2 linked regions of the Homo sapiens genome follow. The protein of the gene in region 1 interacts with the protein of each later gene in a pairwise test. Each region holds a gene or a part of one and is shown on either strand. Other genes may lie near its edges.

The links.
Region 2: the proteins of MAGEH1 (region 1) and ZSCAN9 interact in binary tests that used the Homo sapiens proteins (3 or more experiments, as listed by UniProt).

What each region holds. Positions count from the first base shown.
Region 1 is NC_000023.11:55,447,324-55,454,071, reverse strand, and holds MAGEH1 (melanoma-associated antigen H1), read right to left. Parts: upstream 1,946-6,748; 5' UTR 1,698-1,945; coding exon 1,038-1,697; 3' UTR 506-1,037; downstream 1-505.
Region 2 is NC_000006.12:28,228,248-28,234,006, reverse strand, and holds the end of ZSCAN9 (zinc finger and SCAN domain-containing protein 9), read right to left. Parts: exon of another isoform or gene 4,751-5,759; intron 3,690-4,750; coding exon of another isoform or gene 3,519-3,689; intron 1,446-3,518; coding exon 829-1,445; 3' UTR 520-828; downstream 1-519. UniProt on the Homo sapiens protein: May be involved in transcriptional regulation.

The DNA.
Region 1 (6,748 bases):
TTTTATTTCTGAAGTACCCCATGACAACCTTTTCCCCTGCAACCACCCCTTCTCTCTGCCCTCCTCCTCTCAAGATGATTTTTGTGTATTTTCTACTTCCGTGGCAGGCACCCTGTGATGTCCTCTTCTTTTTGCCAGTGCTCCCTCCCCTATGCTGGGTGGAGTATCCAATCAAATATCTAATACATAATATTTTCATCATATATTCTGATCGTATATTTCAGTCCCCCCCAAACTTATTTAAGTGTCTCTTGAATTTTCACACATCCTATGGTGCTCCCTTCCCCGGCCCACTCCCCAAGACAGGTCACATAAGGTTTTTTACATTTTCATGGCACTTCAGGCTCGTTCTCTATCCCAGCATTTACTGCACTGCCAGTTTACCTATTTTTCTTTCCCACATAATCTAGAACATTCTTTGGACCTGGAGGATGTGTACTAGGGAGTATCCCTAGAATCTAGACTGGTGCCTCACATAACAGGTGGTCAGAAAATGCGCAAGATGTACTATTCGTTAGGCTTTTATTTTTCTCTATGTTCTGCAGTAACTAAGGAAAATCATGGTAAATGTCAATCTTCACACAACAGCAGACACAAAGGGTTTCAGAAACGTCAGATATGAAGAAATCCTCCATCCTTCTTCAACATTTTACTGGGTATTTCAACTTCAAAAGAACAGCTTATTTCTATAAGTGCTGTACAAGATCATAGATTATGATGGAACGACTTCATTTTAGAACGTTAGCAAAACTGTTATACTAAATGTCAATGACAGGAAACAAAGAAAAAAATTTGTTCAATTATATTTTTAAACATATTGTTATTCTCAACAAACGGAATTTTAAAACGAATACAATTTTCCATTATCAAAAGCAAACACTCTATTTCGCAGTTGAACAATGATCACTGATCACAAATATCAAATACAGTGTCCCCCGCCCCCAATCGACATCATTTTCAACTTAGGACCCTGGCATCTACTCCTTGGGGTACCTGTGACTCTCTTTTACACCCCCAAGGGTCTGCCTCAGATCTACTTAAGGGGCGGAATAACCCCTAGCACCTGAATTGAGGATAGCCTCAACCTCTGCATCATCGTCCGAATCCCAGTCATAATTACAAGGCCAGTCTTTAGAGCATCGGTTACGAACCCTTGCCACAAAATGCATGACTTTCAGTTTGCTCGATTCCACGTGTGCTCGGGGCCCCCAGAAGAACTCATACTCCACCGGACTGCTACGGGGCACCGGTTTATAAATCAGGTACCCTCTGCGCACAAACTCTTCTGTGACGATCTTCTTCGGATCTCCAAAGATGCTGTGCTGACGTCCAGGCTGCATTCCTAACTTCCCCAGCACTTTCCAGACCAGAGCTTCCTTGGCGCTGTTGCCCATGATGAAGATGAGCGCTAATATAGACATCAGGAGACTTTTCTTGGTGCCCTGAAAATTGCTCCGGGGCACTGAAGGCTTTTGTGCTTGGGCAGTGCTCGAGGCTTCTTCAGGGGTGGTAGAGGCCTCCTCTGGAGTGCTCGGGTCTTCCTCGGGGCCGCTCAGGTCGTCTTCGGGGGTGCTCGCTACCACAGAGGCGGCCATAGGGGTCTCGGAGGCCTCTGAGGCCTGGATTTTGCGATTGTTGCGGTTCTCTTCTGCGGCTCTCGCATTACGGCGGCGCCGACTCTTTCGTCCCCGAGGCATGTCTCCTGCTAGAGGCTCAAAGCTTACAGCAGTCCTAGGGAAGGATGCTTGTAGCCTCTTCAGGAAGCAACAGCTTTATACCGTAAGAAGCTGCTGCCGCTGAAGCTACCAATGTCAATAGAGTCTTTGTAGCAATAAACAAGCCGTTCTCAGCTACAAAGGGTAGTTCCCACGCCAGCTGACTTGCGCGAGCAGCCGCCGCCAGCACTTGCCGCAGCTGCAAGCCCGCGAGAAAGCTCAGCAAAATTGGCCCCGCCTCTCCTGCCACGCACACTCCTAGCACCAAAGAGGAAGTAGGCTGGTCCTCCACAGGGACTTCCGCTAGCAGATAGGAAAAGGGGCAGGCAGCGACAGGGGTGGGACAAGGGCAGAAATGACAGCTAGAGATTGGAGGGGCCTGGAGTTTGCAGAAGAGAAAAAAATAGCTTAAAGTTTCTGTATTTTCAGCCTACTACAAACATTCCAAGATTGGCTCGACGGTCTAGGGAAGGAGTGCGTCGGCTCCATTCCCACTGACGACGGGCTGTGTGTGTGTTGGGGGTTGGGAGGCCAGGGGTGGCGGGAGGGTGTATTCTTGGAAGGAGTCAGCTGTCTCCAGCCTTCCTTTCCTGTCTTGGCTTACACAGCGCGTTCATTCACTCGCCCTGTTTTCAGAAGGCATTTGTGTGTATACTAATCAATTTGTGGTCCCATGTAGGACCCGGATAATATTGTTATGGCAGATGTGCTGGATGATGTGAGGAGATGGGACTGCAGAAACAAGCAGGGTGAAAGAGGTGCAGAGCCTTTAAAATGTGGTAGATATATGCACGATATATATACTGCCCTGCTTTTATACATACATACATACATACCTATATCGTGCATATATCTACCACATTATGTTTATATACAGTGCATATATCTACCACACATATATGTATGTATGTATGTATGAAAGCAGGGCAGTGACAGGATCAGAGGAATTGCATTTGTGCAGCCTCTCAGAAAAGCAAACTGTTTCCTGGCAGACCACATAGGAAGCAATTGGAATAAGAAGCACTGGGAACTAAAGTATGCCTTAAGGCTGTTGCCATGGGGATGGAGAGGCAGAAAGACATTTTAAAGGTGACCGTTGAAGGGCTTTGCAGACAGAATGGATGAAGTGGGGAATGTGGAGGGGATGATGGAGTTCAGATTGGCTCCAAGGTTTCTAGGCTCCAGTCTTCCTGGACTCCTGATTTATTTTGCTTCTTTCAGAGCATACTCTGAACTTTATCCACTGCTTGCTTTTGCTCACTGTTTGCTCTGCCTGACCTGTCTTCTCAGCCTTCTCCAACTATCTAAATTCCATTTGACTGCTCACAGACCTGTTTCTCCCTGAAGCTTGTCTTGATCTGCCCAAAAGGGTAATGAGTCCATTTTTACTCCATTGAGGAAAGCCCTATAACTAGCACTCTATATCTTTCTTATGTCATTCAAGGTATTAGTTTAAGCAAGTCACTTCTCTCTAAGCCTGTTTTCCCATCTATAAAGTGGGGCTAAAGTACAGCCCTCATAGGGTTGTGAGAATTAAATGAGATAAAAAATGAAAAGCATTTATTACATGGTAAGCACAGATTTTGCCTCTCAAGGTTTTCCAAGCGGTGTGTGAGTGTGGCATTTAATAAATGCGTGCTGAAGGAATTCATGATGGAAAAGATTTTATAGGTGTTCTTAACTGAACTCTTAAGAAACAAATGAATACTTTATGCCTGTCTTGCTGAAATTTTCTTTATAATTAGAGCCCACCGAGACCTCCTGTTGGGTAAGTTAGCAATAAATCAATTTGGTCAAGCAAAGAAAGCACCTCTCCAGGACACAGAGCACTCTTGAGCCAGCCCTCCGTTTGGGATAACCTTTGCACGCGTTCTGGGACATGACCTACTCAAAACAGTAGTCTGGCTCCATCTGCTGTCCCACATTCTGAGAATTCTCGCAGTTTCTGGTCCATTGATAATTGCTCTGAATTGTTTTTCAGTACAGGTATGAACTTATTTTACTGTTTCCAGGAATTTGGGTCTTGCATGGAAGTCTATAGCATGTACAATCCTACCCTCATGAAACAAAAATGGGAGGATTACTTTTGCAGTTTATTTGCTTGTTTTTAGCATGAATTTTTTTTTACTGCGACTTAATCTCAAACGTAGGGCAAAGAAGAGAGATTAATATTATAAACACCAATAGCTAGCTGTATAAAATTTAAATATTAGGCCCTACTTACTGTTTATCTTTTATATATTGGATATGGCAAAACCCTCCTATTACGTCTTCCCTGACCCACTCTGCTCTCTCCTTCCCCACTGTGCTCCTCTATAATGAAGTCAGCAATTATGCCCATGGAGACTTGTATATATTTGCTACCTACTTCTGTGTCTGTACACAATATAGAATCTCTTCCTTTATTTAAAGCACGTCTTCATAATGTATACATTGATCAACACTTTGGTTTTCCAGCTCAACTTTATATTTTTTATGTTTACCCATGTAAATACATGGAACTCTAGTTCATTTATTTTAATTTTGTACATTTCATCATTTTCAATTTATCCTGTTCCTAATGATCCACGCCTATGCAGTTCCCATTTTTCCAAAACAAAATAATACTCTTATTAATATTTGTGCGCATGTTCCCTATGAACATGTGCATGCATTTCTCTAGGATCAACATCAACGAGTAGGGTTGCTGATGTGTTGGCATGTATATGTTTAGATAGAACACATGGCTTTCCACTTTGTTTCATTTATAAAAATCAAACCATTCCATATTGAATTTCCAGGCAAACCTTTTTCCTAATTAATAATGAAATCTCCTCAATTTATACCTCTAATTCTTTCATTCTAGTGGCTGAATGTTATTCCTTGCAATGGATTTACCATAATCTCTTCAAGTGTCTGCCTGTTGGCTGGGCGTACTGTATTTCCAACTTATTTAATTTTCTTTTTCTATTATTATTATACTTTAAGTTCTAGGGTACATGTGCACAACGTGCAACTTTGTTACATAGGTATACATGTGCCATGTTGATTTGCTGCACCCATTAACTCGTCATTTACATTGGGTATTTCTCCTAATGCTATCCCTCCCCCTACCCTCCACCCCACGACAGGCCCCAGGGTGTGATGTTCCCCTCCCTGTGTCCAAGTGTTCTCATTGTTCAATTCCCACCTATGAGGGAGAACATACAGTGTTTGGTTTTCTGTCCTTGTGATAGTTTGCTCAGAATGTTGGTTTCTAGCTTCATCCATGTCCCTACAAACGACATGAAATCATCCTTTTTTATGGCTGTATAGTATTCCATGGTGTATATGTGTCACATTTTCTTAACCCAGTCTATCATTGATAGACAGTTGGGTTGGTTCCAAGTCCTTGCTATTGTGAACAGTGCCACAATAAACATATGTGTGCATGTGTCTTTATAGTAGAATGATTTATAATCCTTTGGGTATACACCCAGTAATGGGATCACTGGGTCAAATGGTATTTCTAGTTCTAGATCCTTGAGGAATTGCCACACTGTCTTCCACAATGGTTGAACTAATTTACACTCCCACCAGCAGTGTAAAAGCTTTCTTATTTCTCCACATCCTCTCCAGCATCTGTTGTTTCCTGACTTTTTAATGATTGCCATTCTAACTGGTGTGAGATGGTATCTCATTGTGGTTTTGATTTGCATTTCTCTGATAACCAGTGATGATGAGCATTTTTTCATGTGTCTGTTGGCTGCATAAATGTCTTCTTTTGAGAAGTGTCTGTTCATATCCCTTGCCCACTTTTTGATGGGGTTGTTTGTTTTGTTGAAAATTTGTTTAAGTTCTTTGTAGATTCTTGATATTAGCCCTTTGTCAGATGGGTAGATAGTAAAAATTTTCTCCCATTCTGTAGGTTGCCTGTTCACTCTGATGGTAGTTTGTTTTGCTGTGCATAAGATCTTTAGTTTAATTAGATCCATTTGTCTATTTTGGCTTTTGTTGCCATTGCTTTTGATGTTTTAGTCATGAAGTCCTTGCCCATGCCTATGTCCTGAATGGTAATGCCTAGGTTTTCTTCTAGGATTTTTATGGTTTCAGGTCTAACATTTAAGTCTTTCACCCATCTTGAATTAATTTTTGTATAAGGTGTAATGAAGGGATCCAGTTTCAGCTTTCTACATATGGCTAGCCAGTTTTCCCAGCACCATATATTAAATAGGGAATGCTTTCCCCATTACTTGTTTTTGTCAGGTTTGTCAAAGATCAGATGGTTGTAGATTTGTGGTATTATTTCTGAGGGCTCTGTTCTGTTCCACTGGACTGTATCTCTGTTTTGGTACCAGTACCATGCTGTTTTGGTTACTGTAGCCTTGTACTATAAAGTCAGGTAGCATGATGCCTCCAGCTTTGTTCTTTTTGCTTAGGATTGTCTTGGCAATGTGGGGTCTTTTTTGGTTCCATATGAACTTTAAAGTAGTTTTTTCCAATTCTGTGAAGAAAGTCATTGGTAGCTTGATGGGGATGGCACTGAATCTATAAATTACCTTGGGCAGTATGGCCATTTTCACGATATTGATTCTTCCTACCCATGAGCATGGAATGTTCTTCCATTTGTTTGTATCCTCTTTTATTTCATTGAGCAGTGGTTTACAGTTCTCCTTGAAGAGGTCCTTCACTTCCCTTGTAAGTTGGATTTCTAGGTATTTTATTCTCTTTGTAGCAATTGTGAATGGGAGTTCACTCATAATTTGGCTCTCTGTTTGTCTGTTGTTGGTGTATAGAAATGCTTGTGATTGTTGCAAATTGATTTTGTAACCTGAGACTATGCTGAAGTTGTTTATCAGCTTAAGGAGATTTTGGGCCGAGACAATGGGGTTTTCTAAATATACAATCATGTCATCTGCAAACAGGGACAATTTGACTTCCTCTTTTCCTAAGGGAATACTCTTTATTTCTTTCTCTTGCCTGATTGCCCTGGCCAGAACTTCCAATACTATGTTGAGTAGGAGTGGTGAGAGGGGGCATCCTTGTCTTGTGCCGGTTTTCAGAGGGGATGCTTC
Region 2 (5,759 bases), on another chromosome or scaffold:
GTACAAAGCTTGACATCATAAAGAAATTGAGATTTGGAGTTAAAAGCCAAGGTTTAACTAAAAAGGTGTGATGTTACAAGTTAACATTAGGAGAATCTAGGTGAAGGGAATATGAGAACTCCATCTCTGCAACATTTCTGTAAGTCAAATATTATTCCAAAATTAAAGCATTACTAAAAATAAAAGTTCAGGGTTTCAGCCTTGGCTCTGATGCTTGGATTTTCTAAGCCTTGGAGTCCTCATCTGTAAAATGCGATAATGATAACGCTCATTTCCCTGTGTGGCTGTTGTGAGGACCAACTATGGTTAAGTAAGCGGACACACACTGCAGACACTGAAACACACAGCCAATGCTGGTCACTTTCCAAGGGAGAGTCACGTAGGTGTCAGAGAGAAGCAGTAAGGTAGAAAAGGTGTTTATAGTGTAGACCCTGGTCACAGGGAACACCAAAGACCCAATTGTTATAAACCATCAGTAGAACTCTGTTATCCTTTGTAGTTAAACACAGATACCAAATCTTTCAGGCATGTTGGCTGTGGCAGTGCCATTTATTATATTATTAGAAGGGTTTAGCAGCCATCTCAAAAAAATAAATAAATTATAAATAAGAGGGACACAGCTAGTAAGAGTAAGAAAGAGGTAAAATGAACAAAAGAGAAAACAGTAGCTTCAAACACCCAACTTTCCTTTAAGGAAGTCCCTGGGCCTTAAGTCAGGATTTGTTTCAAACACATTTCATGGAGAAAGGAAGAAAGAGGCATTTTCTAGTCTCAACCTGCCCCACACAACTTGGGTGGTGATCTGGAAAACTTGCTCATAGCCAAGCCCTAGACCAGCTCAGCCACTGTGTGGATCTTCTGATGGCGAATGAGGTTGCAGTGTCGATTAAAGCTTTTCCCACATTCAATGCACTGGTGAGGTCGCTCCCCTGTGTGGCTTCTCTGATGTTCAATGAGAAATGAACGCCGACTGTAGCTCTTACTGCACTGGCTGCACTGATACGGCTTTTCTCCTTTGTGGATTCTCTGATGCTGGATAAGACCCGCACTCTGACTGAAGACCTTCCCACACTCCTTGCAGTGGTACCGTTTCTGTATATTGTGGATTCCTCGGTGATTAAAAAGACCAGAACTTCGACTGAAGGCTTTCCCACATTCATTACATTCATAAGGTCTTTCTCCAGTATGAATTCTTTGATGTCGAATGAGACCTGAGCTCTGAGTAAAGCTCTTCCCACATTCATCACATTTGTGTTGCCCCTCTCCTAAGAGGTTTCCCCACTGCCTCTCTATCCTATCCTTATGTTCACCAACTTCTCCATGTGAGGGATCCTGCTGTGATACCTCCCAGGTCTGCTCATTAAACATTTTCCCATGTGGTTCCACTATCTTAGGACAGTCTTTCCTTAGCACCAACTCTCTGTCCTCAGTCTTGGTTACTTCATCTGAAACAAAGAAAAAGGCTAGGTAAATGTCACTTGTTCCCTGAGCCTATGGGAAGGTGACTATGTCTATAAAAATATATCATAGAAAAGGAAGTGGGCTAGAAACAGAAGGGCTAGTGTGGTAACACTTTCCCCTACGTAGGGAGGAACGTTTGCCCTCTTTGGCATAATGCAGGTCAGTCCATCCCCATGTAGACTTGGCCTGAGTCGTTGTTTTTTGTTTTGTTTTTTGAGCCAGAGTGTCACTCTGTAGCCCAGGCTGGAGTGCAATGGTGTGATCTCAGCTCACTGCAGCCTCCATTTCCCAGGTTCAAGCGATTCTCCTGCCTCAGTCTCCCAAGTAGTTGAAACTACAGGCACGCACCCCCACGCCCAACTAATTTTGTATTTTTAGTACAGACGCGGTTTCGCCATGTTGGCCATCCTGGTCTTGAACTCCTGACCTCAGGTGATCCACCCACCTCGGCCTCCCAAAATGCTGCGATTACAGGTGTGAGCCACTGCACCCAGCTGGCAGTACCTTTTTTATACTTCATAGGGAGGGATGGTTAAAGATTAGGGTGGCTTCTCTGGAGTATTCCCTTACACCTCTCTCTCCTTTCTGAGATAACCTCAAAGTGACCCTTTCCAAGGAAAGTTACTTCATGTATTCATTCATTCATTTTCAGAACAAGTATTAAACTTCTACTACTTAGGTGCTTCAGGCAGTCCAGTAGTCCCCACTTATCTGTGGTTTTGCCTTTACAAAGTTTCAGCTACCCACAGTCAATCACAGTTCAAATATACTACATGGAAGATTCCAGAGGCAAACAATTTTTTTTTTTTTTTTTTGAGACGGAGTCTCACTCTGTTGCCCCTTGGCTCACTGTAATCTCCGCTTCCCGGATTCAAGCGATTCTCCTGCCTCAGCCTCCCGAGTAGCTGGGACTACAGGCACACATCACCATGCCTGGCTAATTTTTTGTTTGTTTGTATTTTTAGTAGAGATGAGATTTCGTCATGCTGGCCAGGCTGGTCTCAAACTCCTGGCCTCATGATCCATCCGCCTTGGCCTCCCAAAGTGCTGGGATTACAGGCGTGAGCCACCACGCCCAGCACAAACAATTCTTAAGTTTTAAATTTGGCACCATTCTGAGTAGTATGATGAAATCTCATGCCATCTGGCTCTGTCTCACCCAGGACATGAGTCTTCCTTTTGTCCAGCATATCCACACTGTACATGCTGCCTGCCTGTTGCACACATAGTAGCCATCTTGGTTATGAGATTGACTGTTGCAGTGTCTCAGTGCTTGTGTTTACATACCCCTTATTTTACTTAATAATGGCCCCAAAGTGCAAAAGTAGTGAGGCTGGCATATTATTATAATTGTAATTGTTCCATTTTATTATTAGTTATTGTTGTTAATCTCTTACTATGCCTAATTTATAAATTAAACTTTATCTTAGGTATGTATAGGAAAAAAATAGTATATACAGGGTTCAGTATTACCCTTGGTTTCAGGCATCTACTGGGGGTCTTGGAATGTATCCCCCTTGAATAGTGAGGACTACTATACTTTATGAATTTCAAATCCACAATTATCCAAGGTGCATTCCCATCATAAGACCTTTGCTCTAGTGCTTCTCTCTTCCTGGAAACTTCTCACCTCAAATGAAAGCAAGGCCCACTCTCTCGCTTCCTTTAAGTCTTTGTTCAACTCACCTTCTCAATGAGGTCTATCTTAATTCTTCTATTTAATATCACAATCTGTTTGCCTCATCCGTAGCACTCTTAATCTCCCTTATCCTGTTCTATTTTTGCCTTATTCCATAGCCTCATCACCTTTTAACACACTGTATCATTTCTTTACTTTTATATTTATTATTATCTCCCTCTTGCTACAATCTAATCTCTACGAGAGGAGGAACCTTCTGTTTTATTCCTGAGAAACATGCCTGGCACATAGTCTGATTTCACTTTGCAACCCAGAAAAAGGCCGAGGACAACAGACCCAGGCCTCCTCTTTTGACCAAAATATTTGCCTCTTTCTCCCATATCTAACTGTCCTGTCTCTCACATACAAGAATAGGTACCTCTTAGGACTCCTCTGTTGTTAGGCCATGTTTCTCCTCCTCCTTTTAGCTGGGGGATCACAACAGGTTTGGAAAATAAAAATGTGTCTGTAGAGAACAGATGGGCCCCAAGTGGGATCAGTACTGCCCTTCTCCTCAAACTTCGTATTAAATCTGAAATCCATAAGGGAGCTGGGTAGAATATAAAAATTCAGACATTTCCCACCTTTTAATGATTACCATTTATACAACTTTCATGACTTATGAAGCACTTTCAGATATATTATCAAACTGACTCACCACAAAACTCGATGTTATTATCCCATCTCTTTAAAGAACTATAGAAAAATATGGGCCAGGCGCTGTGACTCACGCCTGTAATCCCAGCACTTCGGGAGGCCGAGGCGGGCGAATCACGAGGTCAGGAGATCGAGACCATCCTGGCTAACACAGTGAAACCCTGTCTCTATTAAAAATACAAAACATTAGCCGGGCATGGTGGCGGGTGCCTGTAGTCCCAGCTACTTGGGAGGCTCAGACAGAAGAATGGCATGAACCCGGGAGGCGGAGCTTGCAGTGAGCCGAGATCGTGCCACTGCATTCCAGCCTGGGCGACAGAGCGAGACTCTGTCTCAAAAAAAAAAAAAAAGAAAAATATGGGAAGATACATATATATGGGTAGGCAGACTATATAGAGAAACGTCTGCAAAATATGCAGCAAAGTGACAAGAGTAGCTACCTCTAGGGAGTAGGATTTGGAAAACTTCCATTTTTTACTATATAAACTTTTGTATTATTTGGATTTTTAAATAATCAGCATAACTTAAAAAGAAACTCAAGCTTACCTATTAAATATTGCTTGGCTAAGAATTTGAAAAGCTGGAACTTGAATTTGGTCCTTGTAATTTCAAACACTATGTTGTTTTATAATATTGGCTTTATCTAAATTTGTAACACATACCTGCGCTGATATCCTACAAGGAGAACACTCCAGTCTCCAGATGCCCTCTGGATATTCTCCTACAGCCATAGTAGATGCTTAATAAACACTTGTTGAATGATAGATGGATAGATAAGTGGATAGGTGGAAAATATAGATGTGCTTCTTGGAAAAGGGGATACTCAGCAGGGTTCTAGATGCAGTTTGGAAGGTAGAAGAAAGGAAGTGGCTAGAAAATAAAAGGTCCAAGTTCATAGAGAGAGGAAGAAGAAAGAAACAAATTGACTGGAAAGATGCTCATAAAGAGGGAAAATGATATCAGAAGCAATTTTAATCTGATAAAGTCACAGAAGCTATAAGAAGGTCTGCACAGAATTTACTCAACACATACACTTTAATTTAAATCAAGAGATGAGTTCCATGTAATAGAAATCCATAATTGCTAGGGTAAATGAAATAAACAGAACCTAGGGACAAAGAGGCAAGGGAAGTTGCAGCTTTGATGCATATAGGGGTAATATGAAACTGAAAACAGTAGAACCTTGCTACAGATTGATTGTCAGAACATTAACAAAAAGTCAGTAAGAGGGCATGATTTTATGTGTGGGAAATCAGACAAGCTAGAGCCAATTCCTGCAGGGAGGGCTAGAATGGGAAAGCAGCTGACTCAGTCCCAAGTGCTCAGTACTATATCCACAAGGGTGGTCACTGCCACCACTCAGAAGATTACAGAGAAGGAAATGGCAAAGTCTGATTTCACTGGATTCTCCCATACAGTTCTGCCACTTACTAAGCATATCTGATATCTTTCTACTCCAAGTATGAACCCAAATCAGCAAGGGTGGCACTGGTGATTTGTGACAATAGTGACCATGTATTAAGCATAATGCATGCCAAGTGCTTTTCATAAATTGTATTTGATACTCACAATGACTTTCTGAGGTACATACTGGTTACGGACTAAATTGTATTCCCTCACATATGCTGAGGTCCTAACCCCTCAATATGATTATATTTGGAGATAGGGCCTTGAGGAAGGTATTAAAAGTTAAATGAGGTTATAAGGAAGGGCCCTATCGGGTAGGAATGGTATCTGTCCTTATAAGATGAGAGAGCTTGCTCTCTCTCTGTATGCATACAGAAGAAAGGCCATGTGAGGATACAGCAAGAAGATGGCCATCTATAAGCCAGGAAGAGGCCTCACCAGAAACCAAACCTGATGGTATCTTGATCTTGGACTACTAGCCTTTGAAAATGTGAGAAAATAAATTTCTGTTAAAGACAACCAGTCTGTGGTATTCTCTTAAGGCAGCGCAAGTAGA